Regions from separate parts of the Homo sapiens genome. Here regions 1 and 2 are each linked to region 3. Evidence: fine-mapped expression QTL. A gene starts in region 3. Each other region holds a variant in brackets. All regions are shown on one strand. Distances are between the middles of the regions.

Region 1 (4,242 bases), 220 kb before region 3:
TCTTCCCATTGATCACAGAAGAGTTATTTTAATTTCTGTATCTTTGACATTCTGCTTTTGGGTGCAGGAAAATCCTTGCCCGAAATATATGCTATAGGGAGGTAGTGTGGAGTGAGGTTCAGGGAGAGGGTTCTGGAGTCAGCTTGCCAGGGAGAAGCCAAGTCCAACTCTCGCGTTGAGTTGCTTACTAACTGGACATCCTCAGGCAAGTCACTTAAACCCACAACAGCCACTGTTGTTCACTAGTCGGCTTGAAGTATAGCTAGTACCTAGATCATAGGATTGTAGTGAGAATTAAGTTAGACAAAATGCTGAGAACAGTGGCTAGCAAAAAGTAAGCCCTCAATAAGTTGCAGGTGCAATTAATAGGAAAGAAGATTATAAGATTTGGTGCTTTTCTTGTCAGCATGAAAATTGAGGTGTTCACATTTATTAGGCATCTTCTCAAGGCTAAGCTTTGACTTCAACAATCCTGTGATATTAGATATGATTACCTCTATTTTTCAAATAAGGAAATCGATGATTAAAGAAGTTACAGTAACCTTCCCAATATCACACAGTGAGTGGCAAACTTGAAATTTGAAACAAAGGTGGAGTAATCCCAAAGTCTTCTTTCTTTCTACCCCACAACTTCATTATGCATGTTTCAAAGACCTTTCCTAGCTACCCTATAAAACTGTAATCCTACCTCCTAAAGGTCAAGCTAATAGTATCTGTCCATTTCTAGCCAAATGGATTCAGTCTAGTGTGGAAACATACTATATCAGAATAATATGGGAAAGGGATCCAAAGCCATCTTGATTATAGAATGTAACTTTCACCATGGAGGAGGGAGGAACTTACAGATAGTTTAGGTTTTATAGTTACCCCATAGAAATACATCTTCCCAAGATTATTCTGAAATGTGGAAGTGATTCAACGAAAAATGAAGACTTTTTTTGGTGGCATGTACAGGGAGAAAGACAAAGAAAAATGCACACTAAGAGAGAAATGAAAGAAGGAAGAGCAGAGAGAGAGAAAGAGAGAAAGAATTCATTTCATCCCAAAAGAATTGCAGAGGAATCACAAGACCCTATACATCAATATGGTGTATCCAAGGACGTTGAGAAGGAAAGTGATGGGTTCAGGACGCCAGGGTGTGGAAAAGGCCAGCTAGCCTGATAACACAGTACCAAAAGTCCTTTCTTCTTCCTATATTCTGTATCCAGCCCAGCGTTTAAAAGCCTCAAAAAATCAGCCCTCTTAGAAGAAAAACTGAGAAGCCACTCTAGATGTCCTAGAAGAAAGATAAATAAAAGTGCTGTCAGAGGTCATGATGGGACCTCATCTCCTTCTCCTCTGTCTAGTATAAAGGGTCCCACTTCTTCCATGGCTGCAGAATTGCAAGTCTGGTAAAAGCCTCCAGGATGGAGTGAAAGGAAAGGTGAGAAGAAGATGGTTAGAAAGTCTAGAAGGTGAGTGAGCTGGGATAACTGGGCCATATTTCCTAGGATTCACTACCTTAATCAGTGAAATTCTGGGATTAGAGTGCCTTCCCTCACTCTGCAGATTATCTGAACTTTAATGTTTTCACATCTTAGAAGATGACTTGGTTTCCGTTACAAAGTATCCAGTGTTTTTTATATATCCATCTCCCACATTCTCAAGTACATAAGGTGAGATTGTGGTGATAGTTCCATGTTTATGCATTTGGAAGAGAACCACAGCTTTTTCAGGAGCCAAGAAACAATACCATAGAAGAAGCGCTATTTACAAATAATTAAAATGCACACATGCATGTACACATACACACACACACACACACACACACACACACACA[C/G]AGAGAGAGAGAGAGAGAGAGAGAGAGAGAGAACAGATGCAGAGAACAGACTCAGCCCTCTTAGAAGCATGTCAATGGAGGCATGTCAACACTCAATGAACAGGACGGCCAAAAGCCAGGAAGGTGAACTCACCTTTGGAACTGATAAGAGTCATTGTTTAGCTTTCCATTGTTCTTTGTTTTGATCTAAGGCTGCCTCTCCTATCACTTTCCCCTTGTCACAGTCTCTCATTGTCAGCACTGAGACTGAAGAAAATTGTTCCTTCCATGTAAGAGCAATACACTCCCCTCCTTTTGTCTTTTTCAGGAAATTAGTAGCTCATGTTCCACTAACTGGAGTGTTTTGCCTTATCTCATTCTTATAAGTGAAGTGGGAATTTCAATGCCATAACTTAGAATTATTCTGTCCAATTCACCCTAAATGGATCCTGTTCTCATTGCAACATTTATCTCTAGGCCTCACTAAAGATAATATTCAGGCTTACGTACAGGCACACAATTGTCCTCTCTTCGGCAATGAGGTCTTTAGAAATGTGATGAAATGTGACAGGTTTTTGAATTAGGCTCTAGAAACTGTTTCTTTTATGACTAAATGGATTTCTTGCCATTTTAGAAGCCAGTCTCTACACTGTTTTAAAATTTACTTTAAAGAAGGACCTGGGAAACTCTGGGATTTCTAAATAGACAATACTTGCTCATTGTTCCAGAACCATCTTACAGGCGTTCATTACTTTTTCTGATATTTATTTGAAACTTGAGGCTTAAAAATAACATCTAGTCGTCAGATGGAAGCTTCAATGTACTCTTTCATTATGTAAGTACTAAGGATGATACAAACAAAAAAAAATGCAGGCTAAGGTCATGGCTTTTTACAGTGTACAATTGAGGTTCAAGAGAAAATTTATAGCACTAAACCTGGGTGACATTCTTCCATGATGCACTAGTCCACCCAATTGAATTTTTCATGACTGGCATCCGTTTTGATTGGTTGGAATATGTGCTATGTTAATGGTTAAGTATTTTACCATCTAGCTCAATTCTTTATTTCAAAAATACATCAAGCCTCAAAGAAGTTCAATGATTTTTCCCGGAGTCATACAGATATTAGATAGCCAAGAGTGGGTCTGGTCATTTGAATTCTACTTCAATATCCTTTTCACTAACATATAATCATCCAATTATGTGCAACCATGACCTATGTTCTATTAAGACCCCACTGTTACGATAACAAAAGAAGGGCCTTATAAATCAATATCATAGCTTAATTATTTTATAGCATTTAACATACCGTAAAAACACATAGACTGTTATAGCTTATAATAAACACAAATATCTTTTCTCTGACCATAGCATAATAGAAACTAAGCTCAGAAGGATTTATCTAGGAACAAAAGAAGGAAATTGAAATGTACTAGTTTCTCTGGATTTAGTCCTGATTGTCACTGATAATTCTGTGACTTTGTGCATGTCCTTAGTTTTCACATAGGAAACTGGGCAAGTCTAAAAGATAGGTGCTTCAGTGAGATTCTCAGGTGAGTGGTTGAATTAGGTGACAATTAAGATCCATTTCAACACTGAGATTATATTATTACCTGATCTGTATACCAGGAAATTAATTTAAAAGACCCTCCTCACTGACCCTATCAAGGAGCCCTACTTCCAGCACAGATGATCACAGTGAATTCCACCCACAAAGCAGCTCTGATACGGAGAAAACCAACTCACAATTTCTAACAAGCCATTGTAGCAAAGACTGTTTGCCTTCCACCAATATTTATGTGCTCCTTCTTTTTACTATTAATAATATAATTCCCCACCCAAATTTTCACTAGGTTCAAAGCTTTCCAACTTTAGATGGCAATTCCTAGGCTCTCTTGCAACTGGGTGTGGTTTTGTGACTAAGTTCTGACTAACAACCTGTGAGCCAGAAATGATGTGTTAAGGGTTCTTGTAGATTTTGCCCTTAACTAGAAGAGATGTGCCCTTCACTTCCTCTTTTCCCCTTCTCACCAGCTAGAGAAGAGTTGCTATAGCCAATTTGGACACAGAGATGGAAGCTGTGTGTTAAATATAACAGAGTTAATATAACAGCCCTGCATTGCCTATTCTGGACAGACACATGAGGGAGAAACTTATTTTGTTTAAGCCACTGCACCATGAGTCTCTATTTTAACAGCTTAGATGTTTTGCCCAATGGCACAGTTATAGTGAGTTCTGCCATGGAATACAAATGAGGACTCCAAGAAGAATGCATCAGTCTTAGATTCTATTCAGTATTACCTGCCTACAGCATTCCAGTTCCACTTACACAGAAATACTTTTAATCATAAACTAAGACATCTCAAGCTTCAGAATTTATAGGAAGATTTGCTGATTCCTAGGGCCAATGACAGTTTTAACCCAATATATGCTTTAAAATAATT
Region 2 (4,242 bases), 140 kb before region 3:
ATCATGTAACAATTCTCTCCTTAAAATTTCATCCCAGGCTACTGCCTGAGATACAAGTGAAACACCAGGGTGGACCTGGGGCCGGCTCTGAGGCAACTTCTTTAGAACAGGATGTCCTCCTTCCTTTAGGTGACAGGTTACATACTGAGAGTTTTTTCATCCCTATTGAAAACATCTCATTTGCTGCCAAACTATATGTAAGGGAAAGAAGCAAGGTCTGCCCTCAAAGGCTCCTTGGAGACTGAAACCAGAGAATAGCCGGACATACACGCAGTATGAAAAGTCTAAATTAAACAATGGCTTTACAAGAGCACCTTCCCATGTGACTTTGAATCAGAGTAAAGGGAAGTTCACAAAAATCAAAGCAGTAAAAGGGATCTTTATTTGGAAAGTACTCATTAACTGGGCAAAGCCAACCTTTAGGAATTAGATCTGTGAGGAAAATCCTCCTGGCAATGAAATCAGGACTTTGAATTCTACTGGCTCATAAAATAAATAATAATATCCACTTACAGTTCTATATTACCTTTCAGTTTACAAAGTGGCTTCCCATAGATTATTTTATTTTATCTTCACAACACTCGTCTTACATAATGATGCCTGATTATTCCCTTTCATGGGTTAGGAAATTGAGGCTGGAGAAGCAGACCGGATTTCCTCAAGGTCACATAGTTATTAAGAAGCAAAGCCCAAATTGACATTTTGGTCTCCAGACCCCCATTTAGGAGCTGTTTCTTTGTTGCATCTCTAAAGTTAGTAAGCCATAATTTTATATTATCATATCTAGGTATACGTTCATTTGTAAAAGCCCCTGGTTACTTAAGATCTTGAAAAAGAGTTAGGCTAGGCTTAGAATAAGGCAGAATTTCAAGCTGTTTTATATGTTCCCTGTGACAATGGCAAGAATCCAAGGTACATTTTGAAGACAAATAAAATGAACAGTATTTTTTTTTTTGAGACAGAGTCTTGCTCTGTCACACATGCTAGAGTGCAGTAGTACAATTTCAGTTCACTGCAACCTCTGCCTCCCAGGTTCAAGTAATTCTCATGCCTCAGCCAACCAAGTATCTAGGACTACAAGCACATGCCACCACACCCAGCTAATTTTTGTATTTTTAGAAAAGACAGGGTTTCACCATGTTGGCCAGCCTGGTCTCGAACTCCCGACCTCAGGTGATCTGCCCACCTCGACCTGCCAAAATGCTGGGATTACAGGTGTGAGCCACCATGCCCAGCCCAAAATGAACAGTATTTTTGAATTTCATAATAGTAATATCAAAGGCTAAAACTACTGCACATATTAGAAGCTCTGTCAGTGGAAAAAAAATCAAATTTCCCTGATCAACTTATAAACTTGAAACAAGTTTTTTCTAGGGCTCTCTCTTCACTGAATTAAATACTATGATTTTGAATGTTGAAAATACTTGAATCTTGCTTTTAGTACACACAGTTGTAGAGTTGTGCTTTTCCTTTTTTTTTCATTGTTTATTTTTTAACTAATGTGAGCTATCTTAAAACAGAGAGCTATGGTGAAAGGGCAATGGTTAAGCAACCAGAGAGATCAGGCTTTGAACCCAGGCTCTACCTGGATGATCTGAGTAATTGATTTACTGAGAGCGTTATCTACTTAAAGGAAGCAAAACTATCATTGCTTGATTCCCACCAGAGTATGGAGGCAAGCCTGGAAAATAAGACATTTAAGAAGAAAGAAACAGTATTCTTAATTAAGGAGGGGTGCAAAATAGTGAAGACCACTGGAATTCAGCAGTTCTAATTCACTAAAGTCATTTCAATCTTTCAGGTAGCCTTTTGAAATAATCAAAATGCTATGGAAGAATGTTGTACTTTAAATGCTATGAAAGATGCTATGTTCCATAACATTTAAAGTACAACATAATGTTGTACTTTAATGCCAGTCATTGCCTGTGGCCCACAATTCATTTTCAGAAAGTCCATCCTGCTTGTACCAAGTGACACTTAGCACCCAATCTGATGGAAAAACACCCACCCAATGGAGAATCCATCCATAATTCAGCAAATCAGATTCTCTGACCTGGGTATATAGAATTTAGCATTAGCAACTGAGACAGTGAGATGAGAGTTGCTTGAAGGTGGCAGGGACACATTGACAGGTGTAGGACCAAAGTCAGGGCTGGACCCATTCAAGCAAAAGCTATGTCTAAGCAGAAGTTAAATGGAGCGGGGCAACCATGAGTAAGGTGGTAAATATGAAAAACACAATTAAGCAC[G/A]TAAGAGGAGAAAAGTAGAGTCAAGAGGCTAGTAGTTCAGCAAGAGAAGAGAGTGGATTCAGGTACTGATTTTGCAGTCCCGGGGCCTTTCATGTCCTGGTTGTACTTTTTTCCCTCCAAAGTTTTCAGAGATGCCCTACTATCCTTTCAGCAAATTTTACTAAAACGTCTGAATGGCTTCCTGTCTCTTAGAAACAAAAGGCCATGAGCATAATGCTTTTTTTAATAAAGAGGCAAGACATTGATTAAATTAATAAAAATACATGCCAACAAGTCAAAGAATGAATTAAAAGCCACATGGGTGAGAGCTGGCAGAAGCAGAGAGTTGGCATGCAATCAGAGATGGGTGAGGTTCACCAGAGAGCTCTCCCAAAAGAAATGAACTGAAGCAAATTTGGAAAGAAAGAAGGTGATGTGTACAGTGAGAAAGGTATTTGGGGAAATATCTGCAAAAGATAATAAAGATCAAACCTCTGAAAGTGAGTTCAAAACCTGGCTAGTAAAATTGACTAATCTTTCAAAGAAATAAAAAATTTTAAACTAATTTTATTTCTAATGTAATATCTTCTAACCTAATGAAGATATTTTTAAATATTAAATTACATTGAAACTCATTTTCTCCAGTTGAATGAAAGTAGTTTGTTTTTACTAATTTTGATGTTTTTAAGTCCAAAATCAAGTGTGCCCTTAGTGTCTACTCAGCTGCTATCAACTTTCAGTGTGTCAAGTATTTACATATTCAAGTTCTGCTTATGAAATTGACATACGTTTCCTAGTCCATGGCTCAATTAGCAAAAAGAAGAACTGTTCTTATGATAAACATTCAACCAGTTTTAATGTTATGACTTAACAATTTAATTTTCTAATAGTTATCAAGTCTAACATTTATAACTGTTAAAACACCTTGACATAAAAAGATACATATTATTTATTTTAAATTCCAGTGTTGGCTTTGCCTCAAAAAAAAAGTATATACATTTCATATTAGGAGGATGCAATGGATTATCAAAAAAAACCATATGAGAGTCTTAGAGCCATGACCGTGTTTGACACAAGTGTTATATGTCACCAGCATGAACAGAGAGTTGACGGATCAATCAATAATTACTAGCAAAGTAAGAACAAGTGATTCTAATGTGAAGGAAAGAAAATGGATGAGAACAGCTGTTGTACAGCAGAGTCTTCCCTTTTGAGTTACCAGAAAAAATCATAAAAGCCATAGTAAAGCCCAACTGCAGCTACCAATATCTTGCTATCATTTGCAGAGGTAGTTTGAACTTATTAAGTTATGACTTCAGGTCATTCATTTGTTCCACAAATATTTATGGAGTTCCTATCATGTGCCAAGCTCTGAGTGCACACTGATGAATAAGAGGCTCTCTTTGTGGAGATTATGATCTAGGGAGGTATGGGACCTCCTACATAAAATTACTTCAGTGTGACATTCCCCAATCATGCCTCTGTGTCTTCTAATATACTGTCATTTCTCCACTGAGGACTGTCTTCCATACATAAACCACATACACAATGTGCAAGGGCACGCCCACAAGCATGCCTTCTTTAACTATTTCCAGTTCCTCAGTCTTCTGTATAAATATTACCTACACTAGGAATTTCATTCCTAATTCCCTTGCTTCTGATTTAAATGTTCCATCCTCTGTGCTCCTATATATCCTGTTAATGCCTCTATCAAAGCATGCATTGTAATGAATAATTTGTTGCTATTGTTACTTATTGTGGGCCTGCCCTATAAAGGCAGAGACCTGGATCTAGCACAATACTTGACACACAATAGGTGTCCCATAAATCTTCCTTAGATGGAAGAGCAAATGACCTATTGAGAAGCAGTGGTGGCTGATAAGCCAAAAAAGGAAACAATCTTTGACATTGAAAACATTGGTTTTAGTTTTAAAAGATTTTTATTTGTGAACAAGAAGAAAGGACTATTCATCTCACATTGTCTTAGAAGCTTGGAAACAAATTATATTTAATA
Region 3 (4,242 bases):
GGTTTTCTTCCTTTAGCAAGAAGATAAACCAGAATTAAGGACGCTCTAGGAACATTAGAGACCTGCAGTCAGACAAATTAGCAAGCAGCAAGAACGATTAACAGCTTAAACTCTATGAATGGCTAGGAATTTTGCATTTAAATGTCAGAGCGACGACTATTAATTAGTCTCACCTATGAAAGAAATGGCCTCAGGGAAAAACTGGGACAGGTTTTGGCTCCAGTGATCCGAGATGGGGATTTGCTTGTATTTAAACTCTCCTGCGTTCTCAAAGAGATTCGGCAAATTGGGGGTGACGTTCAAGATGTACTTGATGCCGAATTCCTCCAACACGTCCAAGTTGGTGGAGTCTTTGGCACAGCCCAAGTAGAGGAAGGGCAAGATCTCCACTGGGAAGGAAGGCTGGCTGTTGGACAGCGGACTACCATCCGAGTCTGTTGCACTATTGGGGTCTCGGTCAAGGTCAGACTCGATGTCCGAGGAAGAGTCAGAGCTGATCCGCAGGCCCCCGAGCCCCAGCACTGGCAACGGCGGCGAGCTGCTGCTACACGAGCCGTCTAGATTGGTCTCGCAATGCAGGGAGAACTCGGCTTGGAACTTACTGAAGCCACCTGCCAGAACGAGAAAAGCAATCATCTAACCTGAGAAGCCGTAGTAGTTTTCACAGCTTGTAAGAACCGCAGCCCGGCGCAAGAAACACCACAAGCATCCTACGAACCCCCTACATACAGAACCATCTATAAGAGAAACACACTTTAAATGTGCACCATCGGGAATGGAACGAACGGGCCCGCCTCGCCAGGGAACCCTTATTCGCTTGAATCCGGAAATAGACAAAATGGCAACTTTTTGGAATATTTTGAGAGCTAAGATGTGCCAATTTGCATCCCCAACAATCTCTCCCGTCCTGCAAATCTTAATTCAAAATCGAACGATAGAAAACAGGGTGATGGTGGAGGATGTTCTGGCTAAGAAGGCGCAGAACCCGTTAGAAAGAAACCGCCGGTACCCGCAGCCGGAAGCGAGTGGATTCTGAGCCGGCCCGGTTCTCTGGTGCGGAACGCGCGGTTCGCGGCCCCTACCTCGCCGGCTGCCGGTCCCTAGGCGGGCAGCGCGGCTCCGAAGCTCCAGCTGAGCGGAGCAGAGGTATTTTCAATCCACGCGCCCCGCCCGCAGCCCTGCGCCCCTAGCCCTGCCCCGCGCGCGGAGTTCCCTGGGCGCGTACCTTCCAGGTAGAACGCCCGGCAGCCCTCGTCCTTGAGCTTCTTGAGCAGCAGCCCGAGCACCGACTCGCCGCCCGTATTCTCGTTCCAGTCGCTGCTGCTCTCGTCGTAGAGCACCACTGTGTCGGTGCCACAGCGCCGGGTGAAGCGGTCCCGGTCCTCGCCGCGCGTGAAGAGCGCGCGCACCGGCAGGTTACCCTTCTGCAGGCGCCGCAGCATGATGCCCGGGATGGCCACGTTGATGGCCGACTCGATGTGCGACGACTCGTATAGCTCCTGCGGCCGGCAGTCCATCAGCAGCAGCCGCTCGTTGCCCAGCTCCAGCTGCTCGTTGAGCCACGCCACCGTCTTGCTGATCGCCATTTCCGACGCGAAGGGCACGGGTCTGAGCGTATCTATCATGGGGGTCGAGCTGCGGGAGAGGGCGGGGTGCCTACCAGACGCCCCTCGGGGCAGGCATAGGCCGAGCGCACCGCGCGCGAAGCTGCCGCTCTCGGAGCGGGGTTTAATTCCGCCTCGCCTTACCCAAGCCGAGGCTAGCGGTTGGGGCAGACGAGACAGAAGTAAAGCCGGAGGTTCTCTCTGCACCCAGCTGCAGCCGCTGGCTCTTAGTGTCAATGAATCTCTCTCAATGAAGCTGCCCAGATAGTTTTTGTTCCTCCCCAGTGAATGAAATCCAATTAATTCGGACTCCGTGCTACTGAGAGGGGAGGAAAAAAAGTCTAGCGGCTTCTAATCCCTCCCTCCAAGGCTGCACCTCAAATCTACCCGGGCGTCTTTCTCCCCGGATTATTTAAGACTCGATTTGCTATCTCTTGGACTCAGCCTCGCACACCCCCTGCGCGAGGCAGCTCCTCAATGGATACAAACAGCGAGCGTCTCAATGGATACATTCTCCGGGCCAGCCAATGAGCGTGCTGCGGAAGGGGCTGTTGCCGTGGGGACGGGCCGGCTGGAACAGGTTGTGTTGATGAATTGTTAATGAGTTTGTCATTCACAAAAACGGAAAGGAATTTCCGCTCCGGATAAGCCCCAGTGCAAACAAGCTGCAACAGCGGGCTCGGCGGGAGGAAGGAGAAAGAAGGGGAGGCGGCAGCGGAGGAGGAGCAGGGCACATAAACCAGGGCACTTCAGTTGTCTCATGTTTCCTTCTGTTGAGAGTTCACACTTCGCGTCGGAACTTTTGCGCACCAATGGCGCAATTAGCATGCACAAAAGCCCTTGTTCGCGACGCTTGCGTTCGCGAGCTAGCTTTAGGAAAACTTGTGCTGACTTTTCGTTCTTTGTATTCCCTTCAAACTCATTTGGACCCAAGTTCGCCTTAACCCTCCCCTCCCCCAACCCCCCTTCTTTAGGCGGTGTGTGGCATTTGTTTGCCACTTTTAAAGGCCCAGCTCTGTTTGCTCTGATGTTCTTTTAGCCGAGGCTGTGTTGGGGCTGGTGAACTGACTGGGCTTTAGTGACCGATGAGGTGTTAAATGCTAATCCAACATATTTCGAAACAAACCAGGATTTTGTTGAAACATTTTAAAGCAAACAAACAAACGTCTGGTTGTGCAGAAAATCAGAAGAAAACCTTTTTTCTTAAAATAACATTTTATTTTCATTAAAACAATGTAGAGTGCAGAAACAAACTCTTAGGTCAGTCCAGTGCTTTTACTGTATTCCGCTCCGGCGGCGTGGGGAGTTACAAGCCATTGTTCGGGGGAATCTATATCTCTCCCCCCGCCCCACCACCACCATCGCCTGCTGGGAGGTCGCGCTGGTTAATGATTTCTGGGCAAGGAGCTCGGCTTCTGACGGGGGAGCCGGTCTGGCGGGGCTGCCTGAGCGAGGTGTGCTGGGACGCGCCGGGCCGGGCCAGCAGTCCCCGCCATGGGCGAGGCGTGAGGAAGTCCTCCCGCAAGACCTGCAGGCTGCGGGGGCTCGGCAGGGGGGCTCGACGATTGGTTACAGTTGGCAGGGAGGCATGTCAGAGGGGGCCTCCCCAGCCCTCTCCTGCCGCCGCCTCCTCCCTTTGTCCAGCGCCGGGCACTCCGGGGAGCACCAGCCGCGCCTGCGCGCTGCGCTCCCTGCCACCGCCCCGCCGTCCCCGTCTCCCCGCTTGGGCACGGGGCTGTGCGCGACGCAGTGGACGGGTGCGGGGCTCAGCGAGGGACTCCCGGGTCCATAGAGATCTGGGGAGGGTGGGGGGAGCAAGGACGAGTGCCTGCCGGGACCCCCCTGGCTCCTCGCTCCCAAGGAGTCGAGGGGAACGTCTCTACCGCGCTGCAAAGCCAGCAGGTAACTTTGGGGAGGTGCGGGCCAGGCCAGCGAGCAGCACTCGGCCCAGGCGCCGCGGGGCGGACGGATTGGAAGCCGGATGGAGGCGTGGCCGGGTGGGGGCCGCGGCGGCGGGGAGGCGCGTTCCCGGCGCGCAGAGCTCTATTGTTATATAAAAGTGCCGAAGCCTGCCCCTCCCGAGCGGAAAACCACCTGTGTGCGGCCGGCGCGGCGCGAGAGGGATGCAGCCGGAAGGCGCGGGCCCTAATCCGGCCTTCCCTCCCTAAACCCCGGCGGAAAAGAGGCCGCGCTTTGTCCCACCGCTGCCTGAGAGGCGGAAGCGGGGGCAGCCGTCCGGCGGGGTGCGGCTTTGGGGAGTGTCCCTTGCTGCGCTTTGCGCCTACCGTGAACACCGCGAGGGCGCCTAAGGTCGCGGGGTCTCCCTTCGCCCGACGCCCCGCACCCACGGGCATGCCTGCTAACACCCCCGCTGCAATTTGCATTTTTAGTCACCCGCCTCTTCCCTGGTTTGGGAAATGTAGGCTAAAAAAAGGCGGCTGCGAGGCCTAGGTTGCCAATTTTGGAGCTCTGCTTCAGGCAGGCCGCCCCTGGAGGAGCGTGTTCGACAAAGGTGGGGATTGCCGAGCTCCTCTCCGCACCATTTTTGGGCAGTCCTTGGAACAAAACTCGTATATTTCACTGGGTATCTTCTAGTTTCAGCCGGGGGAGGCCTGCGCTGGAGTTGACTCCCCCTGTC

Direction of the effects. Positions count from the first base shown, and alleles are read on the strand shown. Sizes are in standard deviations (SD) of each study's normalised expression. Not every link is listed here.
With allele C in place of G in region 1, the expression in whole blood of the gene that starts at base 2,087 in region 3 is higher (small effect, 0.34 SD a copy in TwinsUK).

What was found. PIP is the estimated chance that this variant, and not a neighbour inherited with it, causes the effect. A credible set is the group of variants that fine-mapping cannot tell apart.
Region 1: its variant is the best candidate, but not a certain one, in a credible set for the expression of DUSP6 in whole blood (TwinsUK, PIP 0.74).
Region 2: its variant is the best candidate, but not a certain one, in a credible set for the expression of DUSP6 in whole blood (TOPMed, PIP 0.83).

What each region holds. Positions count from the first base shown.
Region 1 is chr12:89,132,425-89,136,666 of GRCh38, forward strand. No RefSeq gene overlaps it. Among named protein-coding and RNA genes, the nearest start is that of LINC02458, 110 kb to the left of the region's middle. The variant C/G (reference allele first, on the strand shown) is at 1,820.
Region 2 is chr12:89,212,393-89,216,634 of GRCh38, forward strand. No RefSeq gene overlaps it. Among named protein-coding and RNA genes, the nearest start is that of DUSP6, 140 kb to the right of the region's middle. The variant G/A (reference allele first, on the strand shown) is at 2,250.
Region 3 is chr12:89,350,415-89,354,656 of GRCh38, forward strand. DUSP6 (dual specificity phosphatase 6) reads right to left here and starts at 2,087. Exons shown (of 3, transcript NM_001946.4): 1 at 1,226-2,087; 2 at 174-611. The coding sequence starts at 1,625. POC1B-DUSP6 (POC1B-DUSP6 readthrough) reads right to left here. Exons shown (of 11, transcript NR_189589.1): 10 at 174-611. RefSeq lists an enhancer at 579-1,213 and a silencer at 3,033-3,342.